2 linked regions of the Homo sapiens genome follow. The protein of the gene in region 1 purifies or fractionates together with the protein of each later gene. This does not show direct contact. Each region holds a gene or a part of one and is shown in the gene's direction. Other genes may lie near its edges.

Region 1 (7,566 bases):
TACCTGCCAATAGACCCTGGAGTGGCTGCCCCAGGGAAAACTGCCATTGCACTGTCAGCTCCCTCCAGCCCTCTCTCAGGTCCCAGCAGGAGCAGATTTCTGACTAAGCTCAGAGGTCTCAACAAATGGCAGGTTGAACATCAGAGGAGTTATTAATAGGCCTATAGTTACCTCAAGACTCCACCTTACCAGGGCCAAAAATGAGTCCTGGGAGGGCAGCCAGAAAGAAAGTAGGGCAGAGAGGAAACACAGGGAGAGGGGCCCTGGGACCACGTCAGATATGGAGGGAACCAGGGGAACGAGAGCAGCCCTGATGATTGTACTCCCCACAGCCCCTGCATGCCTGTGAACCCTGAGAATTCAGGGTGAGGAGCTCACTCTTGCCTTTCACCTGTTCCTGGGCTCTGGCAGGCTGGCCTGCTTCCTGCCCCAGCCTCACCCACTCTCCGCACTCCTCGCCACTGATGTGGGCAGCTGATCTCTCCGGTTTGCTGGGCTCTCACCCTCTGCCCAATGGCACCAAGTTAACTTCTTCGCATGCTTTATTTTCTGTGATTAAAAAGGGAAACAATTCTCACTAACGCCATTTCTCAGAGGAGAAAACAGGCACAGGGATGTTCTATGACTTCCTCACGATCACCAAGCTACAAGGGGGAGCTGGGCTTTGAATGGAGGTCTACCCATGCTCCTAAAGTTGAGGCGTCCTCCAAGGAAAGGACAGCACCTATAAAAGCTCAATGAATGGGGCGGCAGTGTCACCACTAAGCCCGACCACGCTGCTACTCTGATATCCAACTTCCAGCCTCCAGAACAGGGAGAAATACAGTTCTGTTTTTGATGAGCTCCCCAGGCCGTTACAGCTCTTTCTTTGCTGTAACAGCCTGAACTAGCCCAGAAGTGCTATTCCATCATCTGTGTCATATTCCATCATTCAGAAGGGAGTCACTAACCCCTCAGTGCTGTCTCTGTGGACGCTGCCCACCCTAGGCTGAGATGAGGCACAGGGTCTGGGTCTAAATAAAATGGGAAGGCACTGGAAGGTGCAATGTCATAGGAGGAGGATGTCTGAATTTCATTTAATCTCAACCTCTACTGGTGCAGCATGAAAGATGAGGCCCAGAGCAAAAGTGTCTTTTCCCGAGATCACACTGTGGACCCCAGGCCCACTGGAGTTGCATTAGACGTTACCTCTCACCCCTTCTTGTATTTGTTCCATTTCTAAGTGTGTGCAATATCCACAGGGAACACCACACCATGAGTTTTTAAATATTTATCTCAAACATAACCTCATGAGTTCCCTAGGAAAGAGATGCTAGCATAACCCCCATTGTGCATGCTGGGGAGACCCCAAAACACCAAAGGAGTTCTCTAGGGTCTCACAACTGCTAAAATAAAGGCTGTTTGACCCAGCACTGTCTCCTCAAACCTGGGACCCTGGTTATATCCAGGTCTTCCCAAGGTGCTGAAGGGGCACACTTTTTCATAATGGTGACTACGTAAGGAGTTGACGGGGGAGGGTGAGCGGTCAGAAGCCCAGAGGGGCCTTTGAGTAGGACTTATGGAAAGGAGGAGCTTACAGGATGGAACCTACAAGATGTGACCTCACTTCCTTGCCGACAGACCCCCAACAGAACTTACAATTCTGGTAACTAGGCACCCACATTCTAGAGACAGCCCCATTTCCAGCTCACTTCGTAGGCGATGCTCGAGAGAACAACATGTTCTCCTGCTGTATCCCGACATGCTGCCGACCTCCTCGTCGCACAAGAGGCCAAAATGAGAGTCTTTCCCGAGAATATAGACATTGGTTCAACCCTCACCCTCGACGCCTCTGGCCCTTTGCCAGAAGGCACCCACAGGTAACACAGGGCCCAGGGCAGGCCCATCCAGGCTAGGCCTCAGCTGTGCCCATCAGGGCAGCCTCAGGCCCCTCCCCACTTGTTTGGGGGAAACAGGAGATGAGGGGCCCTCCCTGGATAGGAGCAGGTAGGTTGTCAGGTGTTTGGAGCCTGGTAGGTATGTCAGGTTCACAGCCCAGGCAGTGCCTGGCAGGATGGGAAGGTGAGTGTCAAGGACACAGTTTGTCTGCTCAGATCTGAATCCCAAGTCCTCAAGCTGTCATCTGCCGGAGACCTCAGGCTTCTCTGGCTGGAGGTCTATGCAGATGCTCCTATGTGCCAAATCCTGTTGGGGAAGGGGGTGCCAGGGATGAGTTCTAATGGGGGTGTCCCACTGTGGGGTCAGCCAGACAGGCCACTGACACCTCTTGGCCCGGCTCTCGGGCACTCTCTTTGCAGAGCTCCACACAACAGACCAAACAAGAGCTGTTGGATGGATTCAATTTCTCCATATTCTTCAAAGGGCACGTGCACCACACCACCAACCACGTCCAGTGCCGGTCTGCGGTGAGATTGGGCACAGAAGGGTCTCCACAGACAGGACTTGTGAAAACCAAGGTGGGCCCAGGACTCAGACACGAATATGGGGACTCCCTAAGCTCCATCCTAGGGCGTTCCCACTTGAGTGACCCACTGTCCTCTCCCAAAGGAATCTGGCTGCCATTAGTCCCCAGTGGCAACTTGGTTACAGGCAAAGTCCCTTTCACCTATCAGAGGAAGACCAGAGAAAATCCTTCTGTTTTCACTTTAGGCTATGCCAGGAGTATCTCGGCATGTTGCTTTAAGAATTGAGTACAATGGTAACATTGCAGCAAAATACTCACACTGTTATCATTTTAACTCCCCACCCTAAGTGGATCTCCGGCAACAGGCAGGCAGCTCCGCTGCCCTGCCAGACCTCCTCCAGGACTTAAAATCCAACACTTTTGCACAAACAAGGGGTGGGGGTGGGGGGGGTGCATTGATTACAACAAAAGAAGGTGAAGCGACTCTATGCATTAGTCTTTAAAGTGTCATCTCACAGAACTCATCCCTGCAGCCCCATCAGGCAGGAGTTGTACCCTCGCATGTCATTGTAACATTCCTTAAGGGAGGCCATTTTCCACAGCGGGTCAGCCTCTCAGTGCTGGTGGAGCCTGTCATGATAAAATTCCCTTTCGAGGCAGCCTTTCTACAAGGAGCATAATCCTATGCGTGTCCTAATAGGCTGGAGCAGTTTGCCAGGGCTGCCATAACACGGCACCCTGACTGAAGGGCTTAACCACAGAAATCTGGTTCCTCACAATTCTGGAGACTGGAAGTCCAACGTCAAACTGTCAGCCTGGGGTGGTTTCTCTGGGCCTCTCTCCTTGCCTTGGAGATGGCGGACTTCTATCTCAGTCAGCACAGGGTCTTCTCTTGAACTTCTCTGTGCGCTGACCCCCTCTCCTTGTAAGAACCCCAGGCATGTTAAATTAGGGGCCACCCTAATGAACTCACTTCACCTGAATTACCTCTTGGAGTACTCTGTGTCCAGACACAGTCACATTCTGAGTCTCTGGGGTTGAGAATAGAAACAGTTACATTTGGGGAAGGGGACACAATTCAACCCATAAAATAAACAAATCCCCTGCAGCAGACAGACACCCAGGAAAGGGATATCTGGGTGAAAGGATATGCAGATATCAACTTTCAACAGCTCTAGCTAGTTGACTTTCCAAAAGGGCTCCAGCTGGTCACACGGTCACCAGCAGCCTCTGAAGGTAGCTGCTTCTCTGAACGCAGCCTCCCCTGAATACTAACACGCTTTTAACTTTTCGCCAACCTGCTGTCTGTGTGGCAGAGAAAATCCTTGTTTCATTTCCACTTTCAAACATACATTTGCGTAACCTTTCACGGGTTCAATACCTGCCTGCGTTTTCCCCAAGTCGCCTCGCAGATCCTGGGCCTTGGGACGCGCTTCCTCCCACCCTGGAGTCTTCCGGCATTTTCCCCTTGGCCAGGGCTGGGATGGCCGTAGCTGTTTCTCCAGACTCACGTTCATGTTAAAGGAACAAAAACAATCATATACCTTTAAGTCAAAGAGTTCTTCTAGAGCGTATTGTCCTGTGTGCTGTTGCTGAAATGAGGAGGGGATGAGGCCTCCCCAGGCCTTGAGGACTTGCAGGGATGATGCTCTTCATGCAGGTTGCTGACACAGAGGGTGCTGTTGCCCCACAGCTGACAAACACCGGGACGATGCCTTGAAGGCAGGAATCGTTTTATCATTCTCCATCCTCACATGCAATGTTACTTTGAAAGCCTAGAACGCTTTTCACCATGGGCACCCAGGTTCTCCATATGCACAAGTCCCTGAAGGGTTGGTGCTTCTTGGTGTGAGTTCCAGATCCCGATCCTCTGGTGGTCCATGGTGTTACCACTGACTCCCATGTCCCTCCTTGTCCCCCTAGTATGAAAATGAGATCTGCAGGATGCTAACTTTCCAGCCCGGCACTGGGGAGAAGCTGTTGGGAGTCCCTGGTTCCAGCCTTTCTAACTAAACCCATCTCCTCCTATGCCACCTGCCTGGGCCCCTCCTGGGACTTTATCACTGTGCCACACTTTTTGGAACTACTGGTTAGAAGGTGAGTGTCCATCCCCCTCCAAGACACAGAGGTGCCTCTGTCCCCTACTGGCTCTGTCTTGAAGATGCACCTCTCGGAGCCTCGGTTGGCTCCTCTGGAACAGGGAGTAGTGAGAAGACGAACCTCACAGGGTTCTTGTAGGGACTCAATGATCTAAGACACAGCAAACAAAGGGGTCCCTAGAGCCTAAAACTCTGGAAAATCTGCTGGGGGTGCTGTGATTCATGTTTGTTACTTTTCTCTTCCCCCTCACTTGAAGCAGCTCTCAGCATTCTGCCTCAATGGCCTGTATCACTCACTGTTTGGAAAAACACATAGAAACCAAGTCTGCGATGGCACTGGTAAAGGATGTCTGAGATTCCTTCTGGCTGGTCTTTCTCCTTGACACAGACAGAAGAGGGGTCCCTTGGTGCTGAAAAAGGAGCCACAGGCCCACTCAGACATCTGGAGAGGCTCACTGGGGTTCTCCAAAGGTTGGGGTTCACTCATTCAACACATACATTCAAAACACCTCATTTGTGCATCGCTCTTCTTGGGGCTTGGCATAATTTCATAAACAAAGCAGATGACAATCCCCCGGCCTTGATTCTACTCAGAGTCAGGCACTCACAGTAGACAGAATAAACAAGTCATATCTACAGAATGTTACAGGTGAGACCCTCATGGCCTCCTCTACGTATGGTGGCATCCTCCCAGATTCTGACTAGAATGACGCAGCCCAGCAACAAATATAAACTGGGTGGATTTAGGGTTCTGAAGGGCCTTTTCACCCACAAAACATGGGGGAAAATATGTGGACTCTGGCTGGGGAGAGACTAAAGGAGCTCTGGGGCTCATACTTCTTATAATTCCCACGAGAAGGCTGACATCTGGGGACTTCCCCCACAAGAGGCAAATAGTGAGTTCTGTAAATGGAGACTTAGGTCCCCTGCAAAGCAGAGGGGAGGCTGGGGTCACAGCTGGCCACTGAGAGACCCATCCCCCTCAGCACCGTGGCTTCCCAGCTCTCCCTGTCCTCCTCCCCCCGACATCTGCCCCTTCCCTCCTAACCCCAGGACCAGGGGACCCAGATCTGGAGCTTTGATGAGGAAGCTGCTCACAAATCTGCCTGCAGCTGCAGTCTTGAGTGCCCAGGTGTACAGTGCTGTGCTCCAGGGCCTTTGGGAAGAGAATGTCTGTGGGACGCCAGGGCGCACGAGGGTCTGTACAGCCCTGCTGTATGGCCAGGTCTGCCCCTTCCAGGACAGCACTGATGGCTTACGGTAGGGTGGGGCTGTCCTCCACACTGGCAGCAACAGGCCAGGGACCCAGAACCACGCAGGGGTGCCCTGGAGGGTTGTGTGGGAGAAGGCCAGGCCTCTGACTCAGCTGTCTACTCCATCACCAGCACCATCACCTCCATTTTGTTCAACTGGCCCCCCGAAAACACTTCAGTTTACTATCAGCCCCCGCAACGGTCATCTTTCCGGATAAAGCTGGCCTTCAGGAACCTCTCCTGGCCTGGACTGGGCTTGGAGGACCATCAGGAAATTGTCCTAGGCCAGTTGGTGCTTCCGGAGCCCAACGAGGCCAAGCCAGATGGTGAGGGGGCTTGCAGTCTGCAAGACTTTCCGGGGGTGGTGTTTTGGGGCTACAATTCCCTTAAATTCCACCCGGTCATTTCTGTGCTTGGAAAACCCAGTGAAAAATGACTGGTGTGGTGACCTTTTCTCCTTTTCCAGATCCTGCTCCACGTCCTGGGCAACACGCATTAACAATGCCGGCCCTGGAGCCAGCACCACCACTGCTGGCGGACCTGGGGCCTGCTCTGGAGCCAGAGTCACCTGCAGCCCTGGGTCCACCAGGATATCTACATTCAGCACCAGGGCCAGCACCAGCACCAGGGGAAGGGCCCCCTCCAGGGACAGTGCTGGAGCCACAGTCAGCCCCAGAGTCCTCCTGTCCCTGTCGTGGGTCTGTAAAGAACCAACCCAGTGAGGAGCTGCCTGACATGACGACCTTCCCTCCCAGGCTGCTGGCAGAGCAGCTGACCCTCATGGATGCGGTGAGCAGCTGAGCTTTGCAGGCTGTGTCTCTGGCACCAGCTGTCTCAGACCAGCCTCTCCCTGAGGAGCAGCCAATGCCCTCGGTCCAATTTCAGCCCCACTTCTTACCAACCGTGGGATCTGGATGAGTTTCCTCACCCACAAGCCTTCCCTGTCTGCATGTGGACGGCAGAGATGGGACATCACCAGCGCCAGCTGCACAGAGTGACTGTGCAGACTGAGTGACAGGAGATGGACAGAAAGCAGGGCAGGGCAGGTGCTCACTGTGGGGCAGGCAGGGCCATGGGTCACTCACCCAGCTGCTCAGGAGCCTCACTACCCTCAGCACTTATTAGGTACCTGATGCATACTGGATTCTATGGTAGACACCCAAACAGAGCCCATAGTTGCAGCTGCCACAAGGAAAGTGCACCGGTACGGAGAGGAGTAGTAGAGGGCTGATTGGGATGGGAGGAAGACGAGGCCTCAGGATGGGCAGGCCTGAGCCACCTTCTAGTTCTTAGAGTGTGGATGGCCTGGGAGAAAATGTCACTCTCTCTTCCCACCCTTGTTGGGTTCTAGGCCATGATGCATTCAGGTCCCTCGGGGGCAGAAAACCAAACCCAGGGACTCCCACAAGTCTGGAGCCCATTTTAAAGCTTTCTGAGCTCCAGCTTGGTTCCTGCCAGAGACCGTGGATGACTGTGAGCTCAGTCCCTGCCTGGGACTGTGGGTGACTCTGAGCTGCAGTGTGCTGTGTCCGTGACACTCTCCTCCTCCCCCAAAGGAGCTGTTCAAGAAGGTGGTGCTCCACGAATGCTTGGGCTGCATCTGGGGCCAAGGACATCTGAAGGGGAATGAGCACATGGCACCCACAGTTCGTGCCACCATCGCACACTTCAACAGGCTCACCAACTGCATCACCACCTCCTGCCTCGGGGACCACAGCATGAGGGCCCGGGACAGGGCCAGGGTGGTGGAGCACTGGATCAAGGTGGCCAGGGTAAGCTATGGTTGGGCCTGGGGATTCCCTCTTTAAAA
Region 2 (7,029 bases), on another chromosome or scaffold:
AATATTTCATTACGTGTGAAATTACATGAAATTCATATGTTTGCATCTAAAAATAAAGTTTTGTTGGAACACAGCTACGTTCATGTGTTTTTGGATTGTCTTTCGGTGCTTTTGCTTTAAAACGGCAATTGAGTAACTGGGACAGAGATTGGCCCACAAAACCCAAAATATTTACCATCTGGCTCTTCATAGAACGTGTTTGCCAACCTCAGGTCTGGAACAGCACTGTCCAGTGTGGCAGCCAGTAGTCACATGTAGCAATTTAACTTTAAAATAACTTGCAGTGAAAGGATATAAAGCAAAATCATAAAAGGAAAGGGAGCATGGGGTGAAGTCCGGCGGAAACCAGGTCCCAAGAGTTCTCTTCCCAGGGAGTGTAAATTTCTCCAACAGCTAGTCATAACAATGTGTGAAGTTGTATCTACCCGGGGAACTCATTAGAGACTCAGTGCCCACAGTTTTTATTGGGGGCTGGTCACTTATTCACCCTCTGCCTAACAGGTACCAAAATTCCAGACTCCTAGAATGAAAGCAGATGTTTGGCATGAACTGTATTTGTACAAACAGTTTGGGCACAGTGAGCCAATTACGCATATCAATGGGGGGAACTGTTTACCAGTCAAGTACCAAGACCAAATTGATCACAGGGTTGGTCACTCAAAGACCAACTTCCATTATCATAAAAAATTCTGTTAGACAGTGCTGGTGTAAAGAACAGTGATTCATAGCTGTTTTTAAGTTATAGCCCCCTTTGAGATTATGAGTTTTGGATTTTTCACTCTCGGTTTTAGGCATATATATATATAGATGTAATATTTTCATATAGTTTAAGGAGTTCACTAGTTTAGAAGAAAGAACATAAGTGTTTAAAATATGTGCTTTTTAATTTTTGCCCCAGCCACCGTATGATTACGGTCAAATATGTTTTGTATTTTGGTTTAGATGGTATACTAGAGCTTAAAAGCTTGAGATCTGGTATCAGACAGATTTTATTAGAATCTGTAACCAACCATTCAACTAGTTGTTTGGCCTTGAGCAAATTACTTAACATCTCTAAGCTTCAGTTTCCTTATCTTTAAAAGGGTGGTAATAACATTATCTACCTTATAGAAATATGATAAAAAGTATAATAAATGAGATAATGCACATAAGGCGCTTAGCATGATGCACAGAATTTAGTCATTACTCAGTAGTGGTTCTTACTTGTAACTTGTTTCTTACCTCTCCTTCATTAACTTTTTCCCCTTCTCTTACTTCAGAAGTAATTTTGAGTCACTTTTACTGTGTTGTCTTAGTTGATGCTGTTGATGAACAGCTGGCTATTTGGAACCTAAGCCTAGATGGTTCATGAATTATATTGTTTAATATTTTGTGATGTTTTCTTAAATTTAAAATGCTCCTTTAATTTTTCCACTATGTATACAGTACAGCTTTTAAAAATGGAACAGTCTTTTTTAAAGGTCTTAGTTATGCAATATAATTCCTAGATGGTTTTACTGCTATTCATTTATCTAATGAACTTTAGACAAAATCTTTTACTTTTGTTGATGTTAACAAGGTCTTTTTCTTCCTATAGCTGTGCCTTTGGCTGCAACAAGTATGTTGATTACTCAAGGATTAATTAGTAAAGGTAAATATTTAAAATTTGAATTTATTTAGCATTTTGGATACCATGTTTGTTTTGTGGTATTTTCCAGGTCTTTAGAAAAAGTAAAGATAACAATGTATCATATTAAACACTATGTAGAAATTCATTGATGAATTTAAACGTTTTATCTCTGTGGACCCACTGGCTCAAATATCATGACTTGAGAATTTCTCCTGCACTAATAGCATCATTAACAATCTGCAAGAGCAAGAAGGTAACTAAACACCAGTATTAGCAGGGCAAACCTGGTCTAGGTGGGCCAATAGCAACATTATTGCCTAGGAGCTTGTTAGAATGCACATTCATGGGGACCAGGAGTCTGTGTTTTAACAAATTCGAAGTGATTCTTATATAATGATTTAAAGATCAGTAGCTCTCTAAACCAGCTTTGTCTGATCACCTGGGGCGGATGAGTGGCGGTGAGTTAGCATTATTTAAAAAATCAGAATCTCAGGGGTCTGGCAGGTGATCTATTTTTAACGAGCCACCGAGGAGACTTTCTTGTCCTAAAGTCTATTGGCTCAAATAGTACAGTAGTGGAATTGAGTTTAGATTGAGTATTAAATGTCTTGAGTCCTGCATTTAAAATGTAGTGGAGTAAGCAGTAGAGTTGCTTAATTCCTTTACTTCATGAACTATCTATCTGGTAATGGGAAGGTGTCCCAGAAAAGGATGGTGACCTTAGGATGGCCTGGAGGCCTATTGTTTTAATTAACTGGCTCCTTCAAAAATGTGACTTAATGATTGGAAGATTTAGCCTTTTCACATTAGGATATGATGTATGGTACTTAGTTTTGACACAATTAGTTGATAAAAGTAGTTTTGGAGGCAAATGAGAGGATTTTTGGGGTAAAAATTTATTTAAGGAACTTCTGAAGAACTTCATTACAATACAGTACCATGACAAAAATCTTAAACATAGAAGCGAGTCAAGATGTATGCACTTATATGTCCTTAAGACTAAGCTGTTTTATAGACTGAGATTGGTTCTGTATTGTGAAACAACAACAACAACAACAACAAAACAAAAAAAACCCCACTTGAATTACATTCTTTGTAGGAAAAACTGGCACAGGGATGAAATTACAGTGTTTATTATTGTTCTGCTTCTTTTATCTATTTTAATCCAGTGTGTCATTTAATAATGATTGGAGCTAGGTATGCAGAAGGTTACACAAAAGAATTTAATAGCTGCTAGTAGTTCACTGGAGGAAACAAATGGATGTGAACATATGTTGAAGCAAATAGAAAATTTAATTACATACTTAATAAGCTACTAAATTGTATAGTAGAGACTCTAAGAGTTGTAGGTGTTCAAAGAAGAAAGATCTTTGTAGGGCTGTTGTAATCAAGGAAAGTTTCTTGAAAGAAGTGGGTTTTGAAGGATGGGCAGGATTTAGATTAAATGAGAAGAAAGAACATACCAGGAAGGAGGGACCTGATGATGAAGACAAATAGGCATAACTATTGGGAGAGGCAATCAGGACTGAACTGAAGAGACAAAATCATGCAGGGAGGAGTGAAAAATCCATTAAATAGCTGAAGTAGAGCCAGGAGAAATTATAATTTGGATTAGGTTATGAAGAGGAGGAAGTTTTTTAGAGATTTTGGGTTTAGGTGCAGTTGAAGACTTTGGGCTACTTGAGGGTACGGTAGAAGTGATATTGGGAGGCCGAGTCGGGTGCATCACAAGGTTAGGAAATCGAGACCGTCCTGGCCAACATGATAAAACCCCATCTCTACTAAAAATACAAAAAAATTAGCCGGGCGTGGTCGTGCGTGCCTGTAGTCCCAGCTACTCAGGAGACTGAGGCAGGAGAATCGCTTGAACCCAGGTGGCGGAGGCTGCAGTGAGCTGAGATGGCGCCACTGCACTCTAGCCTGGGCAACAGAGCGAGACTCTGTCTCAAAAAAAAGGTAAAAATTGAGAGAGACTTTAAGAAAAGAATTTGGAATCCACCAAGACATTTTGCATTTAATCAAAATCCCTGACATTTTGTACAGTGGTCCTTTTGTGTCTGTGTGGATTGGTTCCAGGACCCTCCAGAGGATACCAAAATCCACAAAAGCTTAAGTCTCTGATATAAAACGGCCTAGTAAAGTTTACGTGCATATCTGCCTGTATACTGTAAATCATCTCTAGATTACTTATAATACCTAAGACTATGTAAACACTATGTAAATAGTTGTTATACTGTATTGTTTAGGGAATAATGACAAGAAACAAGTCTGTACATGTTTAGTATAGATGCAGTTTTTTTTTTCCTAAATATTTTCTATCCGCAGTTGGTTGCAGAACATGTACATATGGAGGGCTGCCTGTATCCCCTTTCATCCACAGTGTGTCATACTCCACGTGGTCTTAGATGTTCCTTCTGTTTCTTCCTGATCTGCCAAAACCATTTAAACATGCTCAGGTCTCCTCTAACTTGAGAACATTAAAAAGAAAAAAAAATCCTCCCTCATTTGTTTTTCCAGCTACTCCCAACTGCCTCATATTTGAAGCCAGAGGCAGACTTCATGAATGAGCCCTTCACTTTTTACTTCGTTTAACCCATTGCAGTCAGTGTGAGACTATCCATATGTTCTACCATTTATTGGAACTTTTCAAAAGTTCAAAAACAAACTTTTCAAAAACAACCTGTTTGTTGCTTAAATATAATGGACAGTTTTTGTTCTTGACCAACGTTACATAACTTTAACCAGTTTTTCTTGAAATAGTCTATTCTCTTGGCTTCCATGATGGCATATTCCTAAGATTTTTCTCCTACCTCAGGCGATTCCTCTGTTTCATGTTTTTTGAGTGTCTGATATGTACTATACATTGTTATATAGCACTAAACAACAAAAATTCATTAACTCTTGGTGCTTACATTCTTGTATGGGTTTTTTTGTCTAGTTGTTTGGGAAATGTTGGTGTTACTATATTTTGGATATAATATATAATATGTATGGCCCTTCTATAGGCTCCTCAAACAGAACTCAACCATTTTCCACAAAACCAATTCCTCCTTTCCCTTCATGACTGAGTGGTGTTAGTACTATCCAGGAAACTGGGACATTATCCTTCACATCTATCCCTTATCTGCCTTGTCCAATTAATGTCTTTTAGCTCTTAAATGTCTTTATTAACTATCTACCTCCATCTGTACTGCCAGCATAATTAATGCAACCATATGTCACAAAGAGTATTGCGTTAACCTTCAACAAATCTGTTTGTTTCCATTCTTGCTACTTCTCCTTAGGAAAATAAGCTATTTCTAGCACCTGACAGAGGACATACATAGTGCACATAGTACTCAAATATTTGAGGGGATGAATAGCAACCATGACACTATTATCTTTGTCTTAACTCTCTCTCTAGACTGTAAATTCCATGAGAGTAAAGAGTGTGTCCTGTTTCCTGTTAATATCCAGTATGTAGTACCTTTATGTTGTAAGTGGTCTATAACTAGTTGGTGACAGTATGAAGGAACAACTTTTTAATGTAAAAATAGAGATGTTCTTACCATCTTCCTTTTTCTATTGTCATCCCAGTTCTTATAAATGAAGGAACTGAGGCTAAAGGCACAGATTAGTTGTCTGTTTTTGTACTTTAATTACATGAAATCATACACTGAAATATTCTTTTATGTAAGTTCTTTCAACATGGTGAGATTCATCCAGTAGCATGCTGGAACTGGTTTGTACTGGCTCCTGAGAATTGGTTGTTAAATTTTCGGGAACTTTGGCAAGCTGGTTTTTAAAGTGTTGGTAGTTGGCCGGGTACGGTGGCTCATGCCGGTAATCCCAGCACTTTGGGAGGCTGAGGCAGGCGGATCATGAGGTCAGGTGATTGAGACCATCCTGGCCAATATGGTGAAACCCTGTCTCTACTAAAAATACAAAAAATTAACTGGGCATGGTGGTGTGCACCTGTAGTCCCAGCTACTTGGGAGGCTGAGGCAGGAGAATTGCTTGAACCCAGGAGGCGAAGGTTGCAGTGAGCTGAGATGGCGCCACTGCACTCCAGCCTGGGGACAGAGCGAGACTCGTCTCAAAAAAAAAAAAAAAAGAATTGGTAGCTTTACACCATGGAAACTGACAAACATTAAAATTAGAGCTTTTTATAGGGAGTGCTGGTTTACCAGCACATCATTGCACTTAACCACATTGTTGCATGTAGTTGCCCTATAGTTTTCCTCTGTGTGAATACACCAGTTTATCTATCTGAACTGTGCATTGATAATTGGTAGTTTTCAATTTTCACTGTTACAATTAGTTTTGCCAAGAATATGGTGCCTTTTTGATAGACATTTTGCTGGGTCATAGATTTTGTATATATTTATTTAGCTTTAGTAGATATTACCAAACTATTTAGACCAATGTATACTCCTACATTCTCACCAACACTAGCTATTTTTATGTCTTTTATGTTTTAGCCATTGTGGTAAATAAACACTAATATTGATTGCATTGTGGCTTGAATTTGTATTTCCCTGTAACCAATGAAGTTGAAGACCTTTCCATTTGTTTATACTTCATTTCAGCATATCTTTTTCTGTGAAGTATCTGTTTAAGTCTGTTAACCATTTTTCCATTGTATTGTCTTTTTTCCTATTGGTTTTGTGAGACTTCTCTGTATACTTTGGAATTGAGTCTTTTGTCAGATATAGATATGGTGATTATTTTTTCCCCACTCTGTTTAACTGTAGTTTTCAGTGTTAATAGAGTCCAATTTATCAGGTTTCTTCTTTCTAATAGGTGCTTTTTGTTGACTCTTTAAGATCTTCGTCTACTCTAAGGACACAAAGATGGTCTCATGCTTTCTTCTGTAAAATTTTTTAAAAAAATCTTTCATATTTAAATTTTTAAGCCATCTGGATTATTGTTCGATGTAGGATCAAGGTACATTTTCCCCTGTTAATGGATATTAATTGACCCAGCACTATATTTGAAAGGACTATGCTGCAGTGTTGTCTTTGTCATAAATCAAGTGTGCAGGTGTGGATCTGTTTCTGGACTCTTAGTTTTGGTCAGTTTGCCTATTCTTGTACTTAATACCAGACTGTCTTAATTACTACAGCTTTATCATGTAGATTTTGCTATCTGGTGGTAGTCAGTTCTATAATACGATTCTTCAGTGTTGCCTTGGCCCTTTGTGTTCCACATGACTCTTAGAATAAGCTTTTCAATTTTTGTAAAACTTTGATTTTAATTGGGATTGCATTGTATTTATAGGTGAAGTTATGGAGAATTGCCATCTTTAGAATATTGGGTCTTTCAATTCTCAGTAAGTTTTATAACTTGTCAGTGTAGAGATCTTTCATATCTTTCATTAGATTTGTTCCTGGGTTTTGAGCGTTTTTTTTTTTGGTGCTATAATTAATTCTGTCTTCTAA

Evidence for each region. Proteins that work in one complex are often made in the same cells at the same time.
Region 2: the proteins of RGL4 (region 1) and OCIAD1 purify together in Homo sapiens (affinity purification with mass spectrometry; 3 studies listed by BioGRID and IntAct, with this or other methods). This does not show direct contact.

The regions. Positions count from the first base shown.
Region 1 is NC_000022.11:23,686,447-23,694,012, forward strand, and holds the start of RGL4 (ral-GDS-related protein), read left to right. Parts: upstream 1-4,566; 5' UTR 4,567-5,584; coding exon 5,585-5,763; intron 5,764-5,888; coding exon 5,889-6,082; intron 6,083-6,222; coding exon 6,223-6,545; intron 6,546-7,312; coding exon 7,313-7,528; intron 7,529-7,566.
Region 2 is NC_000004.12:48,841,060-48,848,088, forward strand, and holds part of OCIAD1 (OCIA domain-containing protein 1), read left to right. Parts: intron 1-1,576; coding exon 1,577-1,630; intron 1,631-7,029. UniProt on the Homo sapiens protein: Maintains stem cell potency. Increases STAT3 phosphorylation and controls ERK phosphorylation. May act as a scaffold, increasing STAT3 recruitment onto endosomes. Involved in integrin-mediated cancer cell adhesion and colony formation in ovarian cancer.